Homo sapiens: one gene and its partners. The protein of the gene in region 3 purifies or fractionates together with the protein of the main gene of each other region. This does not show direct contact. Each region holds a gene or a part of one and is shown on either strand. Other genes may lie near its edges.

Region 1 (3,580 bases), on a different chromosome or scaffold from region 3:
GGCGCAGCACCCCACTCTTCGGGCGCCCCTACACCTCCCCGTGCCTGTGAGTCCTCTGATGCCGCGTGAAGAACCCCAGGTGACGGAAGCCTTTCCCACAGTGGCCGCACTCGTAGAACCTCTTCGTCAGGTGCAGCCTCCGGTGGATGCTGAAGCCCTTGGGCCACCGGAAGGACTTGCCGCACTCGGCACAGGTGTAGGGCTTCTCCCCGCTGTGGACCCTCTGGTGGTGGCTGAGGTTCTCCTTGGTCCGGAAGGCTTTGCCGCAGTCCGCGCAGTAGAACGGCCGCTCCCCGGTGTGCACCAGCTGGTGTCTGAGAAGGTTGGACTTCTGCTTGAAGGCTTTCCCACAGTCGCCACACGAGTAGGGCCTGTGCTCGGTGTGGACCTTGCGGTGCTGAGCCAGGCGGTCCTTCAGGCTGAACGCCTGCCCGCAGGCCTCGCAGCAGAAGGGCTTCTCGCGCGTGTGGTTCTTCTGGTGGCGCTGCAGGTTTGAAGCCCACCGGAAGGTCTGGCCGCACTCGGGGCACTCGAAGGCCTTGGTTCCCGTGTGCACCGTCTGGTGAGCGAGCAGCCGGCTGTGGCAGCTGAGCGCCTTCCCGCACGTGCCGCAGATGAATGACAGCTCTACTGCGCGCTGCTTCCGGCGCTCTCTGCGGCCCGGCCGCCGCCCACAACGCTGCGTGAGCACCTGACACGGGAAAGCCGTGGGCTTGGCGTCTGTCCTTTCTGGAGCAGCTCTGGGAAGCTGCCCGTCATCCGTGTCCAGCCTGAAGCCCTTCCTAAAGCTGCTTCCTTCCCTGGCTCTTTCTCGCCGCACGTGGGTTTTCTTGTGAGCCCAAGCTGGATGATCACAAGGTCTCTTGGGGTCTGCAGACTTCCTTGCCCCTGTGGAAGGAACAGACACCCTTACACAGAGCCAGTGGCCCACAGCCAGGCAGTGCCTCCAGCAAAGCCCAGAGGAGGCCGGGCGCGGTGGCTCACGCCTGTAATCCCAGCACTTTGGGAGGCCGAGGCGGGTGGATCATGAGGTCAGGAGATCGAGACCATCCTGGCTAACAAGGTGAAACCCCGTCTCTACTAAAAAAAAAAAAATACAAAAAATTAGCCGGGCGCAGTGGCGGGCGCCTGTGGTCCCAGCTACTCGGGAGGCTGAGGCAGGAGAATGGCGTGAACCCGGGAAGCGGAGCTTGCAGTGAGCCGAGATTGCGCCACTGCAGTCCGCAGTCCAGCCTGGGCGACAGAGCGAGACTCCGTCTCAAAAAAAAAAAAAAAGCCCAGAGGACCCTCCTGCTGTGTGCGTGGACTGGCTTCCATTGACTCAGCTCATTCCACATGGTTACGAGTGATCAGGAAAACTCGTTCAAAGAAACACAGATGAGCCACAGGTATCAACAGCGGAAGCCAAGATGAGCTCAGATGCTTCCCCAGCCCCGGTGGTACGCAGGCCACCCGGCACTGCTGACGTGAGGGAGAGCCGACACATGCCTGCCAACCAACAGAAGCAACTGGGCCAAGAGAATGTCCTTTCACCCTGTCCACGCCAGCAGGCCCCACTCATGCGGGTGGAGGTGGTGCTAGGATGTCGTCTAGAAGACGGGTAGCTCCACCTGATTCTCAACCACTCAGCCTCAGAGCCATGGCTCCCTTCAGCCGGGGGCTCCACACACCCGGGGATGCGACACCTCCCCAGCCGGGGGCTCCACACACCCGGGGATGCGACACCTCCCCAGCCGGGGGCTCCACACACCCGGGGATGCGACACCTCCCCAGCCGGGGGCTCCACACACCCGGGGATGCGACACCTCCCCAGCCGGGGGCTCCACACACCCGGGGATCCGACACCTCCCCAGCCGGGGGCTCCACACACCCGGGGATGCGACACCTCCCCAGCCGGGGGCTCCACACACCCGGGGATCCGACACCTCCCCAGCCGGGGGCTCCACACACCCGGGGATCCGACACCTCCCCAGCCGGGGGCTCCACACACCCGGGGATGCAACACCTCCCCAGCCGGGGGCTCCACACACCCGGGGATCCGACACCTCCCCAGCCGGGGGCTCCACACACCCGGGGATCCGACACCTCCCCAGCCGGGGGCTCCACACACCCGGGGATCCGACACCTCCCCAGCCGGGGGCTCCACACACCCGGGGACCTGACACTCCAGAGTCAGGGGCTCCACACACCCAGGGACCTGACACTCCACAGTCGGGGGCTCCACACACCTAGGAACCTGACACTCCACAGTCGGGGACTCCACATACCCGGGGACCTCCCAGGGCTCGTGTTCACATAGCTGCTCCATCCCACTCTGAAAATGTAAGTAAAAAGCAAAACCCTGCTGACAACTGCCCCAAGAGCAACCCTCACCTAATGGAGGGAAGCATGGCCACTGTCCCAGTTTTGCAAACAAGGACGTGGAGCAAACTCCTACCCAGAGCCACATACCTGGAGACCCTCACGTGCAGTCAGTACCAGGCCTGGGACCCCACATGGCCATCACAGGGAGGTCAGACACCCACACCAATGGCCTCCGCCGGACAGCACCTGGGTGGCTAGGTGCAGGCTTCAAGTGTCACTCCAGCCTCAGGCCCCTCCGAGCTGCAGCTGTATGTCATCCTGCAGCACTATGCCTTTCGAGCCCCACCCCCGGCCAGTGTCCATCAGGGCAGGAGCGTGGCTGCCCCTACGTCTCTAATGCCTGTCTAATTTAGAGAGCAGCTGTGTGTCTGCTCTCCCATGGGAAGGACACACCCTTGGTCACTGCAGCGTGCTGAGCACTACCCAGGAGCTGTGGGCCACAGGGACGGGGCCCGCCGAGCCCAGACAGCCCAGCACTCACCTGGCCGGGGTCCCCTCTGCACTGCCTGGAACTCAGGTCTCTCCCGGTCTTCAACCCACGGCTCCTCCCACTGTTCCAGGCGAGAGACGAGGTCTGGTCTGGGGCTGCAAAATCCTTCTCAAAGGAGAGAAAAGTTTCTGTTTTACTTGTACTGAGGACAAAGTGAGGGTCGAGGCTCAGAGCAGTTGTGCATCAGCCTAAGACGCCAGGCCAGCCCTCGGGAGGCCCTGGAGAAGCCACCCCAAAGCAGAGATGACAGGAAGGGAGGGGCCTGGACACCAAGGCCCACGGAAGGCCCTGGCAAGGTCAGAGGAAGGAAGATGAGGCTGCCTCCAGGGAGCCCGAGAGAAACGCTGAGTGGGCCCCTCTGTCTACATAAGCCAATAACTTCTAGCTCCTGAGCCCCCTCAGCTGGGAGGCCCCACTACTGTCCTGGACGAGCTGGGCCCAGAGGCAGCGGCAGAGCTCTCCCAGCACTCACCCTGTGCTCACGCTGCGCTCAGCCCGTGCTCACCCAGAGCAGCCACACTGCTGAAGTTGTCCAGCATCACGTCCCGGTAGAGGGCCCTCTGGCTGGGTTCCAGACACGCCCACTCCTCCCTTGAGAAGTAGATGGCCACGTCCCTGAAGGTCACTGGCTCCTGCAACACACACAGCTCCCGAAGAGGCCATTCCCAAGAAAAAGAAGGCTCAGCCCACAGGTCTGGGTGGGAAGGGGGAATGGGAGTGGCCCTG
Region 2 (4,198 bases), on a different chromosome or scaffold from region 3:
AAAATCAATGTATCCTCAACTGATTTTTAAAAACCAAAAAATTGCGGGAAGAAAATGTACCTTGCTAGATCAAAAGTTTTCCACACAACCAACTTGAGGTCAAACAAACCCACGCAGAATCTTCAAAGAACTTCAGGCTGACCTAAAGCATATTTTTTGCTACAGCCAAATTAGAATACTTGCCCTATTTAGTTGTGAATATCTCAGTATAAATGACTTTACAAAAAATCTGGTAACTTTACAGACAGAATTTTACAACAGTGAAATTTGTTCCATAATATAAAATCCTACCAAATGAATAGAATCTATCATTTTAAGGGCATCAGGGATTTCTGCCTGTTGAAGAGTGGAGGATTGAGAAAGGAGCAGTGGCTCATGCCTGTAGTACCAGCTGCTCAAGAGGCTGAGGTGGTAGGATTGCTGGAGCCCAGGAGTTCAAGGCTGCAGTGAGCTGTGATCACACCACTGCACTTCAGCCTGGGCAACACAGAGTGACACTCCATCGCATGCATGCATGCAAACATACATACGAGTGGAGGAACACCTGCCATAATTAAGCCACTTAGAGAAAAAGAGACTTAAGTTAAAACAAAATTCAACATAGAAAAACCGTCACTGCCTATACAGCACTCATGTCAGAGTGTTCCATGAGGTCCCCCAAAATGCACCTACCGTCCCAGCCAGGATGTCATGGGGGCAGCAGTCCAGAAGGTGACTCTTGCAGACACGGTCATCTGTAAACTTGACCCTCTGTCTGGTTTCGTCTCCTGAAATTCATTTGTGGTTTTAAATAAGACAATATTATCACATTAACCACCAAAAAATAACTAGTATAACAATTCACCTGGATGATTTGCAGACTATCATTTCTGTGTTCTCCCCATCAAATGCAATGAAAAGCTGATCTAAAGATATTTACAACTGGAGTGGAATACACATTTTTTTGAGGCTAGTTATATCATGGAGAATCACACTTAATGAGATCTGACTCCATCACTGTACCAAAGAAGTCAAGGAGTCAGACGTAAACAGCTGAGCACCAAAAGGCCATTGGCTCCACATATACATGTGGCAATGAGACTGCAAAACCCAAGCTAATCAGAGGTCCATGAACCACCAAGGGTGACTTATAGAGCTGGTAATTTCCACCAACAAAAGCTACTTATTAATCTAATCTTTTTGTTATGAACAAATGCAGAGGCAGTATTTTGCCCAAAATTGAATGAAGAAGAAAGCTTTCAAACTCTATCGAAGACTGTTAAATAATCTAGATCTATTCTTCCTACGTCCCTTTCGTTCCCACCCTTAAAAAAGAGAGTTGCTACCTGGGAGTCACTTTTAACAAGACAATACCAAAAAAAGCAAAAAAGGAACTAGGTTAGTCAATACACACTGTGAGCTCCAACACATACTGTACCCATCTGCATTCTTCAAGACCTCAGCTGCAGAATTTTATGCCCGCTGTTGAAAAGTGTTAAAGGAAAAGTTTTCTTGCCCACACCTGCAGTAAGGAAGTCGGGGGAATGATACATAAAAGTAAAGGTAAAGTGGTATGTGACAAATTTTAAAGCTAGTCTGTGTATACAACACAGAGCTGTGCAACGCTAGAGGAGGAATATATTTTAGGATTTGCAAGCATCCAGGATTAATGTAGTGTCTTTTTATTGAAAATGTTTTCTTTCTAAACTACACTTTTAAAGTTACTTGTGAAAAAAAGCAAACACTTTTTTGTTATAACAGCTTAGAAATTGGTTGTGACTCACGGCTCGATGAACATGAGGCTTTCTGCAACTCCCTTGCAGATTGATGTAGGCAGGCAAAGATACACTGAACCTTTATAAATAAAATAGAGGGGCCACAATTGTTCAGTTTGTATGAAATAAAAATATGGGAAGCAATTCAAAAGCAACTCAATATACAAAGAAAGCTAAAAAGCACTTATTCACCTATGAAATAAAGTGCAAATAATCTGCACAGCCCTGAGAATGTGCCAGTGTGAACTTACAACTTCATTACTCAGCAGAAAAGAAAACACAAACCACAGCAGGTATATAGTTTTGCAAAGATGCAACCGCTTTCTCCTGTGACAACCATCATGATCTTGAGCTCCTCCCTACACAGTACAACCTACCTAACGACTGTCAAGCGCTGGCTACACAGAGGCTCTCCTGTGTGCTGGGGGGAAGGGGGCAGCTGGAAAAGTACTTGGCAGAAACCCACGTTAGAAAAGCTCAGTTTACGGTTCCCCTTGCAATGGTACAGAACCAGAGCGGGCCAGGTTTTCGAGGCCCATCCGGCTCCCTCGGGTGTAGCTTCTTCCCAAGGAGCCTCGGAAGAGTTCTGCCACCCGGCTGCCAGCGACCTGGAGCCCACGCTGATTCCAGCCCTCCGCCGACTCCACAGTTCGCGGAGGGGCACGGAGCCGCGGCGCCCGCCGGGGAGGAAGTAGCAGGACGGTACATAGGAAGGAGGCTGAAGCCCCATCCATGGCGCAGACTCCGAGAGAGGAGCCCGACCTGGACCCACGGCCGCCTCAGAGACGCACCGGCTTAGACAAAGGCCCGGCGCCTGCGGTCGGAGCGCGGGGGAGGAGGAGCGATGCCCCGCGCAGGCGCAGGCGCAGACGATCGCGGCCCCCGCCTCAGGCCGCCCGGCGGCCTCGCCTCACTCCCACCCCAGACCCTCGCCTGGTTGGCCGCTCTGACTCACCGTCCCGAGCCGTGCCCATGAGCTGGTCCAGCAGGGCCCGCATCTGCGCCTGGGCGGACATGGTAGCCGGCGGAGGCGACGGGGTCGGCCGCGACGACTTCTCTCAGGCAGGCGGTGGCAGCGGCGTCGACAAACGATGGTCGCGTCGGCCTCGAGCCCACTCGGCTCTTTCCCGCCGCGGGGGACGCCGGGAGGAAGTACGACGGCGCCGGCGCACGCCCTGCTGGGAAATGTAGTTTCTGGGGTGGGTGCTTAGGGAGGCTGAGGCTCTGAGTGGTCGCAAGTTGTCCAACGGCGGAACCAAAATCCCAACCCTGATTTTACTCTAGACCCCCAGGACCTCAAACGAGTCTCTACGGAGGGTAAACTACAATAAAATGAAATACAGTCAATCAAAAACAAGATGAATCCGTGCTTTTTCTAAGCTAGCCATGAAACCGTGAGCATATTATTTAGCTCCCCGACGCTCGTTTTTTTAAATCTGTGAAATGAGGGTTCTAAAGGTGCCCCTCATATGATTTTTGTGAAAGTTAAATAAAGCATGGAATTTTATTTATTTATTTATTTATTTATTTAGAGCGAGGGTCTTGCTCCGTCGCCCAGGCTGGAATGCAGTGGCGCGATTACCGCTCACTGCAGCCTCGACCTCCCCGGCTCCTTATCCTCCCGCCTCAGCCCGGCAAAGTATTGGGATTACTGGTGTGAACCACCACGTTTGGCCATCAGTCATGGCATTAATATTAGGTTCTATGATTACAACCTCGTGGTCGTCCTTTTGTGAGCTCATGGTCTACTGTCCCAGGGACTAAAGAAAAGGCATATGTAAGCAGTTATTTTATGTGATAATAGAATTATAGCATGCACTTATGTGTGCATAGTCTGGCATATACTTCTATTATATTAAACCTCTATTATTTATTTATTTATTTTTGAGACGGAGTTTCGCCCAGGCTAGAGTGCAATGGCGCGATCTTGGCTCTCCGCAACCTCCGCCTCCTGGGTTCAAGCGATTCTCCTGCCTCAACCTCCCAAAGTGCTGGGATTACAGGCATGAGCCACCACGCCCGGTCTTTATTTTTTATTTGTTTATTTTTTTTTTGAGACGGAGTCTTGCTCTGTCACCCAGGCTGGAATGCTGTGGCGCGATCTCGGCTCACTGTAAGCTCCGCCTCCCGGGTTGAAGCGATTCTCCTGCCTCAGTCTCCCCAGTAGCTGGAATTTCAGGCGCCCGCCACCCCCTCCGGCTAATTTTTGAATGTTAAGTAGAGACGGGGTTTCACCATGCTGGCCAGGCTGGTCTCAAAGTCTTGACCTCAAGTAGCCAGCCACCATGCCCAGCTGATTTTTGTATTTTCGGTAGACACGGTGTTGTACCGTATTGGCCAGGCTGGTCTTGAACTTCTGACCTTGTGATCTGCCTGCCTCGGCCTCCCAAAGTGCTGAGATTACAGGCGTGAGCCACCGCGCCCTGCCGTATTTTATTTATTTT
Region 3 (3,950 bases):
CCTTAGTGTCTACTTGCAGGACCCTTCCTCCTTCCCTAGGGCTGCAGGGCCTGTCCACAGCTCCTGTGGGGGTGGAGGAGACTCCTCTGGAGAAGGGTGAGAAGGTGGAGGCTATGCTTTGGGGGGACAGGCCAGAATGAAGTCCTGGGTCAGGAGCCCAGCTGGCTGGGCCCAGCTGCCTATGTAAGGCCTTCTAGTTTGTTCTGAGACCCCCACCCCACGAACCAAATCCAAATAAAGTGACATTCCCAGCCTGCTCGTCCTGTCCTGGTGACTGGGGAGAGAATGGGTTCTCGTTCTGGCCGGGACTATAGAATTTAATGGTAATGATGGCCAATGGTGCCCCCTGGGATGGGCAATGGATTTTACTGGCCCCAGGCATAGTCATTCTGGTGGGGGACTCAGGACCAGAGCTGGTTCAGCCTAATGGTGGGGGGGCCTCTACCACCCTGATAATTATAGCACCTCCAACCTGAAGCAGCCTCAGAGCTCAGCCAGCTGCCTGACCACACACAGGATGCAGCTCGGAGCTGGCATGTCTCAGCCAGGGCCACACAAGCAGCTAGTCCCAGCAAATCTCATCAGAGCCCCATGTGGATTTAGCAGGAAAGGGGAAATATCTGAGTTAAGGGCATTAGAAAACTGATGGGCCAGGCGTGGTGGCTCACACCTGTAATCCCAGCACTTTGGGAGGCTGAGGTGGGTGGATCACTTGAGCCCAGAAGTTTGAGACCAGCCTGGGCAACATGGTAAAATCTCATCTCTACAAAATGTGCAAACATTAGCAGGGTGTGGTGGCGGACACCTGTAGTCCCAGCTACTTGGGAGGCTGAGGCAGGAGAATCGCTTGAGCCCGGGAGGTTGAGGCTGCAGTGAGCCGAGATCGCGCCATTGCACCCCAGCCTGGCTGGGTGAGACAGAGTGAGAATGTCTCAAAAACAAAAACAATAAAACCACTGGCCACCGCCCCCGCCCCCCCCCAAAAAAATTGGCAAGGAGCAGGAGACCTCAGAAGTAAAAAATGGCAATATCTTGCTTTTTTTTTTTTTTTTTTTTTTTGGCTCACTGCAACCTCTACCTCCCGGGTTCAAGTGATTCTTGTGCTCAGCCTCCTGAGTAGCTGGGATTACAGGTGCATGCCACCATGCCCAGCTAATTTTTGTAGTTTTAGTAGAGATGGGGTTTCACCATGTTGGCCAGGCTGATCCCAAACCCCTGACCTCAAGTCATCTGCCCGCCTCTGCCTCCCAAAGTGCTGGGATTACAGTCATGAGCCACCACACCTGGTATCTTACCTTTTTAAAAGGAGTCTGTCATCCACCACAATGGTCTAGGGTTCTAGGGTTCTCCCAGCCTCCCTCAGCTGTCTCCTTTCCCTACCTGTCCCTGTGGAGGAGTGCCAGGCAGGAGTGGAAAGAATGTGGCAGGGAAGGATCCATCCAAGTCTAAACTGGGCAACCATTTTGGCTTAGCGTCCAGGAGTTGTGGCACCTGTCCACCGCCAGGTGCTATGACGTCGGCTCTCCCAGAACCTGGAAGGAGCTGAACTGGTCAGTTGTAGGTCTCTGGAGACTACAGCTGCTGGGAGGCTGCTCTAAGCTGGCTCCTGAGGGGCACACCACCGGCCAGGAGGAGGCCAGAGGACTGCTCCAGGACAAGAAGTACAAAAGGCATGCAAGCAGGTCTGGCAGGCAGAGGGCAGTGTGGGCGGGTGGGGGTGCTGTTCACAGTGGCCCCCACCTGGCCAGGAAAGCCAGGACCCACTGCCACATGCCTTCCCTGGCAACAAACAAGGTCTTTCCTTCCCCAGGAAGGGTGTGTGTGAGGGACACAAAGGCAACGGAGCCCAGATGAATGGCAGAGGGAGGTTTAATGGTGTCACCTTGTCTTGCTAATGAGCCAACACAAAAAAAAAAAAAAAAAAAAATGCAAGTAAAAAAAAGTTTAATCACACAGCACTTTATACAGATATCGTAAGCAGTAGGCATTCACATCTCCACATGTACAATGCACTGGGAAGCACAGCCCCACCAGTCACTCCGGGTGTTTCTCAAACAAGATACCGACTCGGTTCCAAATGCCACGGTGTGTGGTCCGGCTCCATCCTCCCGCAGCTCTGCTGGCTGGGCGGTCACAGCACAGCACAGGTGTGGAGCCCACTTAAGGCTGACAAGACGCATCATGCTTTGGCTTTTTTTTTGTCTTTTTTTCTAATAAGAGTTAATATCTTTGCTTTTGAGTTTTTTTTCCAACCTTAAATATTACATACATACACCAAAAATTACATAGCTGCAATGTGCTCAACAGCATCCTCTCGGCCTGGAGCTTCACATTATCAAAAGCTTAGAAAACTTGTAAACCTCTGGGCCTGTCTCTGGGCACTAGGAGAGCCCCCGCCGGCCGTCCCCTTCGGATTGAGCCTGCAGTTTGTAAGCGAAGGGCTGACAGTAGGCCTTCTAGTCCAAGAGAGGGCTGGCTCGCTTGGAGTTCAGTGAGCTGCACGCCTGTCCCAGTGTGACCATGTGATGGGGGAGGGGCCCTAGCACTTGCCCTGGCCTTGTGCAGCTGCTCTTGCCCCCAGCAGCCTCCGACAGAAGAGCAAGGCACCTATAGCTGTTGCTTTCCCTGCAGCTCCCTGGTCCTCAACTCCATGTGCATGTGTGAAGGCCACCACCTCTCCTGGGCGTCACCCGGAACCTAGCCTGGTCCCAACCTCTCTTAGAGAGCAAGTTCAACAGGCCTGAGGGCTATAACGTGGTCGACAGGCCATGTATAGCCGGGAGTCAGTGACAGCAGCTACAACTCCCAAGGGATAGTGTTGACGCTGGAGGACTAGGGAGGACCTGGGTGGTGGTGGCAGCAGGAGGGTCTGGGACACAGGGAGGCTTGAGTTGAACTAAACAGGTTGAAAGGGACCAGGGGAATTGTTGGCGCAACCCACACTTCATGCAAGGCACATGTGCTCTCCTGCGGGTCTGCAGGGAACCGGCCCAGAGAGCCCCGCGGCAGGCCCTGGAACACCCGCCTCTGACCTGAGAAGGGGCAGCAAGGGAGCAAGTGCCGGACATTCTGCTGGGGTGACAAATGGAAAATCGGCAACAGGGTTCCGATTTTCTTTGCCACAGGGGACCCGCCTGTTGAAAGCTCGCTTCAAAATAGAAACGGCAGCATCTCAACACACTTCTTGCACTTCAGCATCAAACTCACCTTGGGGAGAAGAGGGCAGTGGGTTTGCAGTGGGGACAGAGGGGCATGGGAAGAGGGGTGATTCCGGGGGGGAGTGAGCAGGCGGCGGCTGGCCTCTCCCACGGTGATGCTCTTTCCTCTGTGCCTGGCAGCTACTTGTCCTCTGTGCACTCCGGCATGCCTGCCTCTAGCAGGGCAGCCCGGAACTGCGTCAGGACACCCCGGATGCTCTTGATGAAACCCTTGGAAAGTGGGAAGAGGGGGAAGCCGATGTCAGGGTAGCCACTCTTCTCAGGTAAGAAGCTCCGGTAGCTCTTTCTCCGCTTCTTTGGTTTCACACTGGGTGGCACCGATGCGTCTGGTGCGGTCTCCGAAGTCTGGTCTGTGTGGTCCCTGCTAGCTGAGGCCAGGCCCTGGGCACCGCCCTCTGAGTCTGAGCCCTGGGAGGCCTCTCCTGGGGCTGGCCCTCCATCCTCAGGTTCTTGTTGGCCGGAGTCTGACAGCTCGGCTACAGCTGGGGGCTCTGGCGAGCTGCTGGCCTTGGGCACCCCGTTGGGCAGTGCCTGGGCCTTCTCCAGCAGGGCATGGGTTTCCAGCCAGGACTCGATACGGTTCACCAGCCGCCAGCCACCAGTGCTAAAGTGTTGCCTGATCTCCTGCTCAAAGACCTCGGGGGGCCGCCGCACCAGCTGGGTCATGGACTGCACCACGCGGATCAGCGCCATCTCATTGTAACAGCGACTGTTTTCATAGCCTTCCTGCAG
Region 4 (3,580 bases), on a different chromosome or scaffold from region 3:
GATTTCATTTTTTGGATTTGGGATGCTCAACCTACATATCACAACTTGCTAATTTTCCAGAAACCACTTACCAGCTTGGAAAAAATTCTTTTATATCTGTCATTTCTTTTTTCCCTTCTGGGAAAAGAGTGAAATTTCTATGGTCTGAGATCTACATACTCTTGGAGCTACAACCTCATACTATAATCTCTAGAACACCTAGTTCAATCTTACAATGTGTTTCTTCAAATGAAATGAGATACTCTACTTAAGGCACTTGTCACATTTCCTAGCACACAGGTAACGCTCAATGAAATGTAAAGTGAATATTATGGCTAGTAGGACACCACAGGGATTATTATTTTTTTTTGGATGATATATAGCATTGTTGAAAGCATGACTTTGAGATCAGCCAGATTTGAGTTTTATTTCTGGTTCTACCATTCACTGTCTGTGTGACCTAAGTAAGTTACATATCCTCTCTCAGCTTACTCTGTCACTAGCAAAAGAGGGATACTAATATAAATTTTACTGGGGTGGAGTGGGGGTGGGGTTTATAAAGATTAGATGAATATGGATAAATTCCTTACTACAGTGTCTGGCATACAATAAGCACCCAGTAAATGATTATGATTTTTTTCTTTTATCCCATCTTATATAATTTTATACTAGTTTCTAATTTCCTCATCTTCCATACTTCCATATTTCTTTAAGCTCACAGATTCAACGACTTTTTTTTAATGTTTCTGAAATTTGCATTATATAATCACTGTCAAAAGAAACTTGCCATTTGGCAAACAAAGGAGTAAGATGTGATATACTTTTTCATCATCTACAAATGTGAAAATGTAGTCCTGCAAAGAAATTCTGTTCCATGTTACTGTCACCTCAATTGAATCTTAAAATGAGATTCCCAATATTACTGAAAATTCCACTTATATATTAGAATACTGGGCAATATTCCCATAAGGACTTACTATACACAAAAGAACAAGTAGATAAAAGCTCTGAGGTAAACTTTACAGTAAATGAAGAAATCTCTCTCTCTCAATAGAGGACTGACATCACTTCTCCTAAAAAGGGACCATATAGACATGTAGTTTTGTTTCACTGTCTTTATGGTGCAAAAAGATTACCTGGTTATAAGCCATGTGACACAAACGAAGTCTGTTTAAACTTCTTGAAATATACTGAGTATATAATATGCTCAAAGATCGAAGGAAGTGAGCATAACCTAATACTACAAAGGGTTTTAATTAGCTTAAGCACATCTGCTAACTCTAAAGAGAAGGTATTTAAATTTAAGACATTTAAATGTAGTATGATTCAAGGAACACTATAAATTAGGACTACAGGCAAATCATTTGTGATATAACTGTCCATCCTAAAGCTGCTGAAGTTAAAAAGATGAGTTACAAAAAAATGTTGCCACCATGATGCTATGTGATTTTAGCTGCCAATGGTAAAAGTGACTCAGAAGAATGTTTAGACATTCCAAATACTAGAATTCTAAGATTTTATCAATTAATGAATACCAATGTAAGAGGAATTATATACATTTAGATATTTTTAGACTTTTTAATAGTTTATGGCTCCTAGAATTGAGGAACTAACCAAAGTTCAATGTAAAAAAAACCCTTCAATGAAACAACCACCCTTAAACCTTTTGTTAACAAAATACATCATAAAAAAAAAATAATAATTCTATGCTAACCTGGTGCAAATCTAGCCCAATATGAAAAATCAAAGGGCTAGAAAAGGATTTTGTTATAAATCTTTTTTTTTTTTTGAGACAGAGTCTCGCTGTCGCCCAGGCTGGAGTGCAGTGGCCCGATCTCAGCTCACTGCAGGCTCTGCCCCCCCAGGTTCACGCCATTCTCCTGCCTCAGCCTCCCGCGCAGCTGGGACTACAGGCGCCCGCCACCTCGCCCAGCTAATTTTTTGTATTTTTAGTAGAGTCGGGGTTTCACCGTGTTAGCCAGGATGGTCTCGATCTCCTGACCTCGTGATCCACCCGCCTCGGCCTCCCAAAGTGCTGGAATTACAGGCGTGAGCCACCATGCCCGGCTGGATTTTGTTATAAATCTTACAAGATACGAAGCATTCTTTATTCACTCTTCCACACATTTTAAAGGAAATCACATTCCGTTAAATGGCCAAGAGTTACGATACTTGTATAATTAAACATTTATATAATTCGCACAGTAATATTTTTTAAAGTAAGCAGAAGTTTCCCACGTCCCATAACAGATTTATCACCATCTAAAATTTAAAATCAATTATATCTCTTTTTAGAACCACAGAGATTCAACTTCAATTACTTGGCCCATTACTCCATACCTCCTCAGCTTCTCCCTTTCTTCTCTCTCTCTCTCTTCTCTTCGTTTCAGCCGTTCCTGGTTTCTTTTCTCCTGCTTCTCAGCTACGACTCTCTTAAAAACAGTAATAAATGAGGAGAATATTTACTGAGTCCATTCTTAAACAGCTTTATCCTAAACTTTATATTATCTGGTTTCTAATACAGTACAACTGCTGTCAAAATCTGTTTAATAATTCAATTTGAAGTACTGCCAGAAATAATCATTAGGCCTACAAGTCTTCTTTCCATAATCTTTCCCCATTTTGTGGAAAATGTGTAAAATTTCACCTTTCTCCATGATTTCTACTTGGTTTTTTTTTTTGTTTTTTTTTTTAAGTGAAAACAAATTATTTTAAAATAGAGACAGAATCTCGCTATGTTGCCCAGATGGGTCTACAACTCCTGGGCTCCAGTGATCCTCCCACCTCAGCCTCCCAAAGTGTTGGAATTAACAGGTGCGAGCCACTGAGACTGGCCTATGATCTTATTATTTTTTTTTTAGAGACAGTCTTACTCTGTTGCCCAGACTGGAGTGCAGTAGCACCATCTCGGCTCACTGCAACCTCCACCTGCCAGCCTCAGCCACCTGAGGAGCTGGGATTACAGGCGTGCATCACCACACCCAGCTAATTTTTCTATTAATATTTTTTAGTGGAGATGGGGTTTCACCATGTTGCCCAGGCTGGTCTCCAACTCCTGGCCTCAAGTGATCTGGCCACCTTGGCATCCCAAAGTGCTGGGATTACAGGCATAAGCCACCATACCCAGCTCCATGACTTTTTTTTTTTTTTTTTGAGACAGAGTCTCGCTCTGTCGCCCAGGTTGGAGTGCAGTGGCACAATCTCAGCTCACTGCAACCTCCACCTCCCGGGTTCAAGTGATTCTCCTGCCTCAGTCTCCAGAGTAGCTGGGACTACAGGCACATGCCACCACACCCAGCTAATTTTTATATTTTTAGTAGAGACAGGATTTCACCATATTGGCCAGACTGGTCTCGAACTCCTGACCTTGTGATCCGCCCGCCTTGGCCTCCCAAAGTGCTAGGATTACAGGCGTGAGCCACTGCGCCTAGCCTTTCATGATTTCTTAATGACATTTCCAAGTCACTTCTACAAGATTTTCCTCCTCTAAATGTTTTCTAGTATTATTTTGTATTTTTTAAAAAAACATCAACCATTATAAATCACAAGTTCCCATGCCCTGTGATTTCTAATATGGAAATATTTAGGTCACTTCCAATTA

The links.
Region 1: the proteins of UBE2O (region 3) and ZNF707 purify together in Homo sapiens (affinity purification with mass spectrometry; 4 studies listed by BioGRID and IntAct, with this or other methods). This does not show direct contact.
Region 2: the proteins of UBE2O (region 3) and LUC7L purify together in Homo sapiens (affinity purification with mass spectrometry; 4 studies listed by BioGRID and IntAct, with this or other methods). This does not show direct contact.
Region 4: the proteins of UBE2O (region 3) and LUC7L2 purify together in Homo sapiens (affinity purification with mass spectrometry; 5 studies listed by BioGRID and IntAct, with this or other methods). This does not show direct contact.

The regions. Positions count from the first base shown.
Region 1 is NC_000008.11:143,690,979-143,694,558, reverse strand, and holds part of ZNF707 (zinc finger protein 707), read right to left. Parts: exon of another isoform or gene 3,487-3,580; coding exon 3,360-3,486; exon of another isoform or gene 3,327-3,359; intron 2,963-3,326; exon of another isoform or gene 2,960-2,962; coding exon 2,846-2,959; intron 2,315-2,845; exon of another isoform or gene 2,266-2,314; coding exon of another isoform or gene 2,229-2,265; intron 889-2,228; coding exon 29-888; 3' UTR 1-28. UniProt on the Homo sapiens protein: May be involved in transcriptional regulation.
Region 2 is NC_000016.10:226,570-230,767, forward strand, and holds the start of LUC7L (putative RNA-binding protein Luc7-like 1), read right to left. Parts: upstream 2,881-4,198; 5' UTR 2,771-2,880; coding exon 2,710-2,770; intron 1,834-2,709; exon of another isoform or gene 768-1,833; coding exon 673-767; intron 1-672. UniProt on the Homo sapiens protein: May bind to RNA via its Arg/Ser-rich domain.
Region 3 is NC_000017.11:76,387,605-76,391,554, forward strand, and holds the end of UBE2O ((E3-independent) E2 ubiquitin-conjugating enzyme), read right to left. Parts: coding exon 3,339-3,950; 3' UTR 1,852-3,338; downstream 1-1,851. UniProt on the Homo sapiens protein: E2/E3 hybrid ubiquitin-protein ligase that displays both E2 and E3 ligase activities and mediates monoubiquitination of target proteins. Negatively regulates TRAF6-mediated NF-kappa-B activation independently of its E2 activity.
Region 4 is NC_000007.14:139,408,394-139,411,973, reverse strand, and holds part of LUC7L2 (putative RNA-binding protein Luc7-like 2), read right to left. Parts: intron 2,412-3,580; coding exon 2,320-2,411; intron 1-2,319. Other genes in the region: FMC1-LUC7L2 readthrough protein, read right to left, coding at 2,320-2,411. UniProt on the Homo sapiens protein: May bind to RNA via its Arg/Ser-rich domain.